Linked DNA regions of Homo sapiens. The protein of the gene in region 1 purifies or fractionates together with the protein of each later gene. This does not show direct contact. Each region holds a gene or a part of one and is shown in the gene's direction. Other genes may lie near its edges.

What was found.
Region 2: the proteins of PIN4 (region 1) and CHST15 purify together in Homo sapiens (affinity purification with mass spectrometry; 2 studies listed by BioGRID and IntAct, with this or other methods). This does not show direct contact.

Annotation. Positions count from the first base shown.
Region 1 is NC_000023.11:72,191,675-72,195,421, forward strand, and holds part of PIN4 (peptidyl-prolyl cis-trans isomerase NIMA-interacting 4), read left to right. Parts: intron 1-3,747.
Region 2 is NC_000010.11:124,091,931-124,095,677, reverse strand, and holds the start of CHST15 (carbohydrate sulfotransferase 15), read left to right. Parts: upstream 1-2,079; 5' UTR 2,080-2,209; intron 2,210-2,350; exon of another isoform or gene 2,351-2,968; intron 2,969-3,271; exon of another isoform or gene 3,272-3,451; intron 3,452-3,747. UniProt on the Homo sapiens protein: Sulfotransferase that transfers sulfate from 3'-phosphoadenosine 5'-phosphosulfate (PAPS) to the C-6 hydroxyl group of the GalNAc 4-sulfate residue of chondroitin sulfate A and forms chondroitin sulfate E containing GlcA-GalNAc(4,6-SO(4)) repeating units.

The DNA of each region.
Region 1 (3,747 bases):
CAACTTTTAAATGTTTTTATTATTTTAACAAGAAAGTGGAAACCAGACCCATTGTCAGGAACTCATTGGCTTTCAGCCCCCTAGCAACAAAGTTACCTCCTCACCTTTTTTCCTTTAAGGCTAATTTTTCAAACCGTGTTCTGAATACCAAACCTTGCTCCTTCATTTATCTCTACCCTCTTTTTTGTTCTGTCTTCAACCGGTTTTTTTTTTCCTAGGTCTTTCCCTTCATTCCGAAAATATGCCCAGGGACCTTTAAAATTCGTGGGTTTTTTTGTTTTTGTTTTTGTTTTTGAGATGGAGTCTCACTCTTGTTGCCCAGGCTGGAGTGCAGTGGCGCGATCTTGGCTCACTGCAACCTCCATCTCCCAGTTTCAAGCGATTCTCCTGCTTCAGCCTCCCGAGTAGCTGGGATTACAGGCATCCACCACCACTCCCGGCTAATTGTTTGTAGTTTTAGTAGAGATGGGATTTCTCCATGTTGGCCAGGCTGGTCTCCAATTCCTCACCTCAGGTGATCCGCCCACCTCTGCCTCCCAAAGTGCTGGGATTACAGGCCTGAGCCACCTCGCCCAGTGTAAATTTCGTATTTACATGTCTTCCACTTTTTGCCTCTAGCCAGAGCCCTTTCTCCTTTTCAAACAAAGTTAGTTTGTTTGAATTACCCTCCCACTTGACATTGTTTCCTCAGTCAGCCTGCTGTATTCTGGCTTCTGCACTTAAACTCTTCTGAAACTCCTTTTTCTGAGATCATTGTTCCATCATTGCACAATGTATTATACTTCTTACCTGATGTCTCTGCAACCCTTAACCCTTGTTGACCATTTCCTCCTTGAAACTCTCTCCTGCCTTGGTTTGTTAGCACACGCTTCTCTCCTACCTATATGGCCTTTCCTTTTTATTATGCTTTTTTCTTTTTTCTTTTTAAGAGACAGGTTCTTGCTCTGTCACACAGGCCGGGGTGCATGACATGCAGTGGCATGATCATAGCTCACTGCAGCCTTCAATTCCTGGGCTCAAGTGATCCTCCTGCCTCAGCCTCCTGAGTAGCTAAGACTACAGATGTGCACCACCATGCCCGGCTAATTTTTTTTAAAGTTTTTGTAGAGATGGGGGTCTTACTATGTTGCCCAGACTGGTCTCAAACTCCCATCCTCAAGGGATCCTCCCACCTTGGCCTCCCAAAGTGCTGGGGTTATAGGTGTGAGCCACTGCGCCTCGCCCCTTTTTATTACACTTTTTGAGTTCTTTACTTGTTGCTTGAACATTGATAGTCTCCAAGGTTACTTTAGCTTTCTTTCCTCCTCTTCTCATTTTCATCTCCTTCCTGGTAACCTCATGAATTCCACACTTCAGCTGCCACCTCCATAGTCATCACTCCCAAACTCTTTCTGTAGCTTGGCTCTCCAAGACACAGCTGCACTGTTGCCAGTTCGTTGGTCACACTTGCAGACCCCACAGGAATGAAAAACTCTTTGTCGCACTGTCTAAACTAGAATACTCGTTTATTCATTTATAAAATGGTGGACGGTATCCCCTATCTGTGACCACGAATGCAGTGTACATTTTCCCAGGAATTGTATCAGACAATCACTTTGTGAGTATGGAAGCAGAAACAAGGAGGCAATCTAGAAGCTGTCTCTTAAAAAAAAAAAATTAACTGTAAAACAGCCTCAGGCAGGTCCTTCAGGAGGTATTCCAGAAGAAGGCATTATCATAGGAGATGACAGTCCCATGCATGTTATTGTCCCTGAAGACCTTTCCATGGGACAGGACATGGAGGTAGAAAACAGTGATATTGATGATCCTGACCCTGTGTGGGCCTAAGCTAGTGTGTGTATTTGTGTCTTAGTCTTTAATAAAAAAGTTTAAAAATTAAAAAAAAAAATTTTAAATAGAAAAAAGCTTATAGTGGCTGGGCGTGGTGGCTCACACCTATAATCCCAACATTTTTGGGAGGTTGAGGTAGGCAGATCACTTGAGGTCAGGAGTTCAAGACCAGCCTGGCTAACACTGTGAAACCCTGTCTCTACAAAAAATACAAAAATTAGCTTGGCGTGGTGACACGCGCCTGTAATCCCAGCTACTCAGGAGGCTGAGAGACACAAGAATCGCTTGAACCTGGGAGGCGGAGGTTGCAGTGAGCTGAGATTGTGCTACTGCACTCCGACTTGGATGACAGAATGAGACTTCATCTCAAAAAAAAAAAAAAGAAAAAAGCTTATAGAATAAGGATATGAAGAAAGAAAATAGTTTTGTACAGTTGCACAATGTGTTTGTTTTTTAAGCCAAGTGTTATTAAATAGAGTCCAAAAGTTTAAAATTTTTTAAATGTATAAAGTTAAAAAGATATAATAACCTAAGGCTAATTTAATATTGAATAAAGAAAAGTGTTTTATAAATTGTAGCTTACATGTATAGTGTGTATAAAGTCTACAGTAGGGGACGGGTGCGGTGGCTCATGCCTGTAATGCCAGCACTTTGGGAGGTCAAGGCGGGTGGATCACTTGAGGTCAGGAGTTCGAGACCAGCCTGATCAACATGGTGAAACCCCGTCTCTACAAAAAATACAAAATTAGGCCGGGTATGGTGGCTCATGTCTGTAATCCCAGCACTTTGGGAGGCCAAGACAAGCGGATCACCTGAGGTCAGGAGTTCGAGACCAGCCTGACCAACATGGCGAAACCATCTCTACTAAAAATACAAAACTTATCCAGGTGTGGTGGCGCGTGCCTGTAATCCCAGCTATTAGGGAGGCTGAGGCAGGAGAATCACTTGAACCCGGGAGAGGGAGGTTGCAGTGAGCTGAGATCGCACTGCTGCACTCCAGCCTGGGCGACAGAGCAAGACTCCGTCTCAGAAAAAAAAAAATTAGCCGCTAGCCAGGCGTGGTGGTGCATGCCTGTAATCCCAGCTACTCAGGAGGCTGAGGCAGGAGACTCACTTGAACTAAGGAGGGGGAGGTTTCGGTGAGCCAAGATCGCATCATTGCACTCCAGCCTGGGCAAAAGAGCGAAACTCCATCTCAAAAAAAAAAAAAAAAAAAAAAAAAGTCTACAGTAGTGTACAGTAATGTCCTAGGCCTTCATATTCACTCACCACTCACTGACTCACCCAGAGCAACTTCCAGTCCTGCAAGCTCCATTCATGTAAAGTGTCCTATATAAGTGTACCATTTTTTATCTTTTATACTATATTTTTACTGTACCTTTTCTATGTTTAGATACCCAAATACTTAAACCATTGTGTTACAGTTGCTTATGGTATTCAGTACAGTCACATACTGTACAGGTTTGTAGCCTAGGAGCAATAGGCTATGCCATATAGCCTAGATATGTAGCTGGCCATACCATCTAGGTTTGTGTAAGTACAGTGTTATGTTTGCACAAAAACAAAATTGCCTAATAACTCATTTCTCATGTTTCCCTGTAGTTAAGTGACGCGTGACTATAAGTGATTCTATTTGAATGTGAAATGAGAAATCCTGCGAAACAGCTATCTTGACAAAATCATTTTCAAGGATAATAGTGTTTTTTTAAATCCATGGCTTTATGTAAACATAGGTCAAATTTGAATACTTCAGTAGGGTTGGGCGTTCTTAATATTCAACCTATGATACCTTTTCAAAGTGTGGAATTGTGGGGAGGCTTATACATTGGGTCTCTTTTAGTAAGAAATACTTCCTGGCCAGGCACGGTGTGCTGACACCTGTAATCCCAGCACTTTGGGAGCTGAGGTGGGCAGATC
Region 2 (3,747 bases), on another chromosome or scaffold:
CAAGTGCAATTCTTGGGTAATTTTTTGAAATTAAGGTTGAAAGGAAAAAAATCACCTTCTAGTTAATCTCAGGCACGTGTATAAATACCTTTGGAAAGTCCCTGGTGGAATTCATATCAAAGCGGCACCGTGATTTTTACTTAAAAACAATTTTGCTCCATGTCAACCGTGGTTTCTGACACCTGAATTTGAAAGTGATCTGGGTGGGCCCAGCGCCATCTCCATAACGGAGTTATGTGTTTACTTGGAGGGAGGAGAGGAAAGGCATTATTCCCTGGCAGTATGTGTGGCCCTGGAATAATGTTCCACACACCCTTACAGAAGGGGATTTCCTCCTTGCTGTTTCCACAGACCCTTCCCTGTGTTTGTTTAAACCCGTTGCACACTGGTCTGACAGCTGCCTGGCCCAGGGCCTTCCTTGCAGACGCATGTACAACCAACCCTCTTTAACAGCAACCTGCTCTGTGTCCCCTGATGCAATTACTCGAGTATATAAACCTCACTGAAAGGCAGGCTTTTCTTGGGAGCTAATAAATAAGCCCCAAAGCCACAACGTGTGTGAGACCTTGAAAAATGGCATCATCATCTATTGGGAATTGTGAACCCTGCAAAAAGCAGCTCGTTGTATTTTCAGAAATAGGTTTTTGTTTAAAAAAAAAATAAAGAACAAAAATCACTAAGTGGAGTCTATATGGAAAAAGCAATCTAGTCTGAGATTCTAAGGCAAGTCTCTTTGCTGCATTCATCTTTCTTCGCAGATTTTATGTAAGAGGCATTATTTGCAGGAAAACAAGACAGGATTTTAAAGAACTCCCCTCTCATCCCGGTTTCCCATCTGCAGTTATAATCCTCTGATGGTGACCTCTGCATTAGTTGCCATGGGTGCTGAGCAGAAGTTTATGACCTCAGGGTGGACTGTAGCTTCAGGGGGGCGAGATGAAGCCTCCGGCAATAAAGAGATAATGGGGAGAAGCCACTGTCAGGAATGACCCTTCGGTGGCATGTAGTCTACAGTTAACGGAGCACTTTCATTTCCACTTCTGGTTGCTTCGAGGAAGAGGGTGCTGGACTCTGGCCACGGGGACACAGGCCGGCAAGAGACTGCAGATTCTTTTTGTCCCTTGGACCTCAGTTTCCTGAGAGGCTGGGCTTGGTGCTCCAAGCGCCCTCTGAGCGAATCTGCCAGAATTTCATGTGTCTTTTCTTTAACTGATGGCATCTTCAGCCCAGAGTCAGTGGAGTCGGCCACTGGTGCCGCTTTCTTGCCCTCGGGCTGTCCAGGTGGTTCCCTGGGGCAGCCGACTCCAGGCCACTGCGGCAGGCCGTGGCGATCGGGGTCCTGCAGAGCTTTACCTCCCCCGCGGAAGCAAAACACGCCGGGCCAAAGAGCCGGGCCAGCCTTCCCGGGATGCAAAAATACAACAGAGGGCGCCGAACTCACCAGCGCTGTGGCCTTGAATATTAATGTACGGGCTGGCTCCAGACCGCCAAGTTCCTTAAAGATGTCTCTGGCGGCCGGGCGCGGTGGCTTACGCCTGTAATCCCAGCACTTTGGGTTGGGGGGGCGGACGGATCATCTGAGGTCGGGAGTTCGAGACCAGCCTGACCAACATGGAGAAACCCCGTCTGTACTAAAAATATAAAATTAGCCTATTTTGCGTGGTGGCGCATGCCTGTAATCCCGGCTACTCGGGAGGCTGAGGCAGGAGACTCTCTTGAACCCGGGAGGCTGAGGCAGGAGACTCTCTTGAACCCGGGAGGCGGAAGTTGCAGTGAGCCGAGATCGCGCCATTGCATTCCAGCCTGGGCAACAAGAGCGAAACTCTGTCTTTAAAAAAAAGAAGTATCTGGCAAGGTGTCACTGCCAGATTTCAGGGGTTTCGATGTGCTTTTATTTGGAATCACCGCAACACACAAGCAGTGTTGACTCGGAGGGGGAGGGGGCAGGGGCCAAACCCACCGCTCGGCGCACACGCCTTGATCTCACATTCCAGACTGGAGCTGATGTGTGTCAGCGCGACATGGGGCGGGGGGAGGGTTCTCCTCGGATGTTTCATTCGCCGTCTGCACGTCACTCCCAAACTTTTCCTCCCAGCGCTCGGGGAGTCAGGTTGACGCGCCCTGGATGCGGGGCTAGAGGCTCGGGGCTGGGCGCGCTCCCGCGGAGCCGGAGCCGCAGAGGCTCCCGGGCTGGACTCAGGCTTCTCAGGTACAAGTTAGGTGCCAGACGCCGAGGTGGGGTCGGCGAGGAGCGGCGGTAGGAGGTCTGGCCCTGGGCTCGGGGCTCCGGCGCCCCTCCGCGGGTTCGGGCCAGGCAGCGCCGGCGGCGGCCGGGGCTGGGCGTAGGGAGTCCGGGCCGGCGGAGGCGGCGCGCAGCCTCACTCCCCGCGGCGCTCCCGGCGCGGTGGTGGCGGTGGCGGTGGCGGCGGCGGCCCAGGCAGACAATGAACTTGCGAGCTCGACGAGCCGAGGCAGGTTTGGGCCCCGGGCTCCTTGGCCCGGCCTCCCCGAGGCTTCAGCGATCCCCAGCGGGAGGAGTCCCTTCGCCATTGGTCCTGGCCGCGCTCCGGGCGCCCTGCGCGCTTGAGGACCCCGCGGGAAGGGTTACCCAGCGGCGACACACGCCCCCTCCCTCGCAGAGAGGACGCGGCCGGAGCGAGGGGACAGGGGACCGAGCAGTGGCGTGGTGGCGCCGTGGATAGCCGGAGGCCGGCGGGGGGCGCAAGCCGCGTGGAACGCACCGGCGGGCTGTCCGGGAGAAGGAGCCCAGTAGTCGGAATCGGGGCGCCCCTGCACCGCCCAGCTCTGGGAGCCGCAGGCGGGGGACCGACCGACGGACAGACCAGTGCTTTCACGGTGTGAGCGCGCGTCGTTTGGCGGTAGGGGACGGGGATTCCCCCCAGCCTTGCGCTCCGCCCCCACACCCCTATCGCACTTTGGGGAAGTTTCCAGGCGCGGCCCGGGGCAGGTAAGTGGGCATCCGCCACTCTCTCCCCGGTTGCGAGCTCGGATGCGCTTCCAGAACCCTGGCTCTAGCCTTGCGGCGGTTCCGGGCGGGGAGGCCAGAGCTCTCCCGCGCCTAAGCCCGTGGGACCCGGTTCAGGGAAGGGGGATGGCGGGGGCGGGCCTGGGAAGAGATAGGGGAGCGGCTGAGCCCCGAGCGGTGTGAACTTTTGCTCCCCGCCCCCTCCTCCTTCCTCCTCCCCGCCCCGCCCCCACTGCTGTCCCCTCCCTGCGCCCCGCCGCGTCTCGGGAGGCGGCGTGACTCGGGAGTTGCCGGCGCTTCCCGGCGGTGGCGGCGTCTCTGGCCGGCCTTGGTGCGGCGAGCCGAGCGAGGCAGCTCTGAGCCGCGCGGTGAGGCCAGAGGCGGGGAGCCGGGGCTGCGGGGCGGCGAAGCTGGGGAGCCGGATGGCAGCGGCCGGGGCGCGGAGGCGACGCTGGCGGTGGAGATGTAATGCGAGTCTGTTGGGTTGTGTGTGCCGGGAGATAGGACGCGGTGGCTGTGGGTGGCTGGGTGGCGGGCTGTGGCGCAATTGGCCCCCTGGGATGGCAGGATAGAGGCGCCGGGGCGAAGGGAACCTTGCCTTTGGGAAAATGAATGAAGAGCCGTGGAAGCACCTTCCCGACTCCTCCAGGCAACCGATGGGCCGGCGTGCGCGCGAGTGTGTGCGTGTTGAGGCTTCGGAGCCGCCCGGGTCCTGGGCACAGCTGCTTGACCTCCCCGTCGCTGTCCGGGTGCCCACGTTC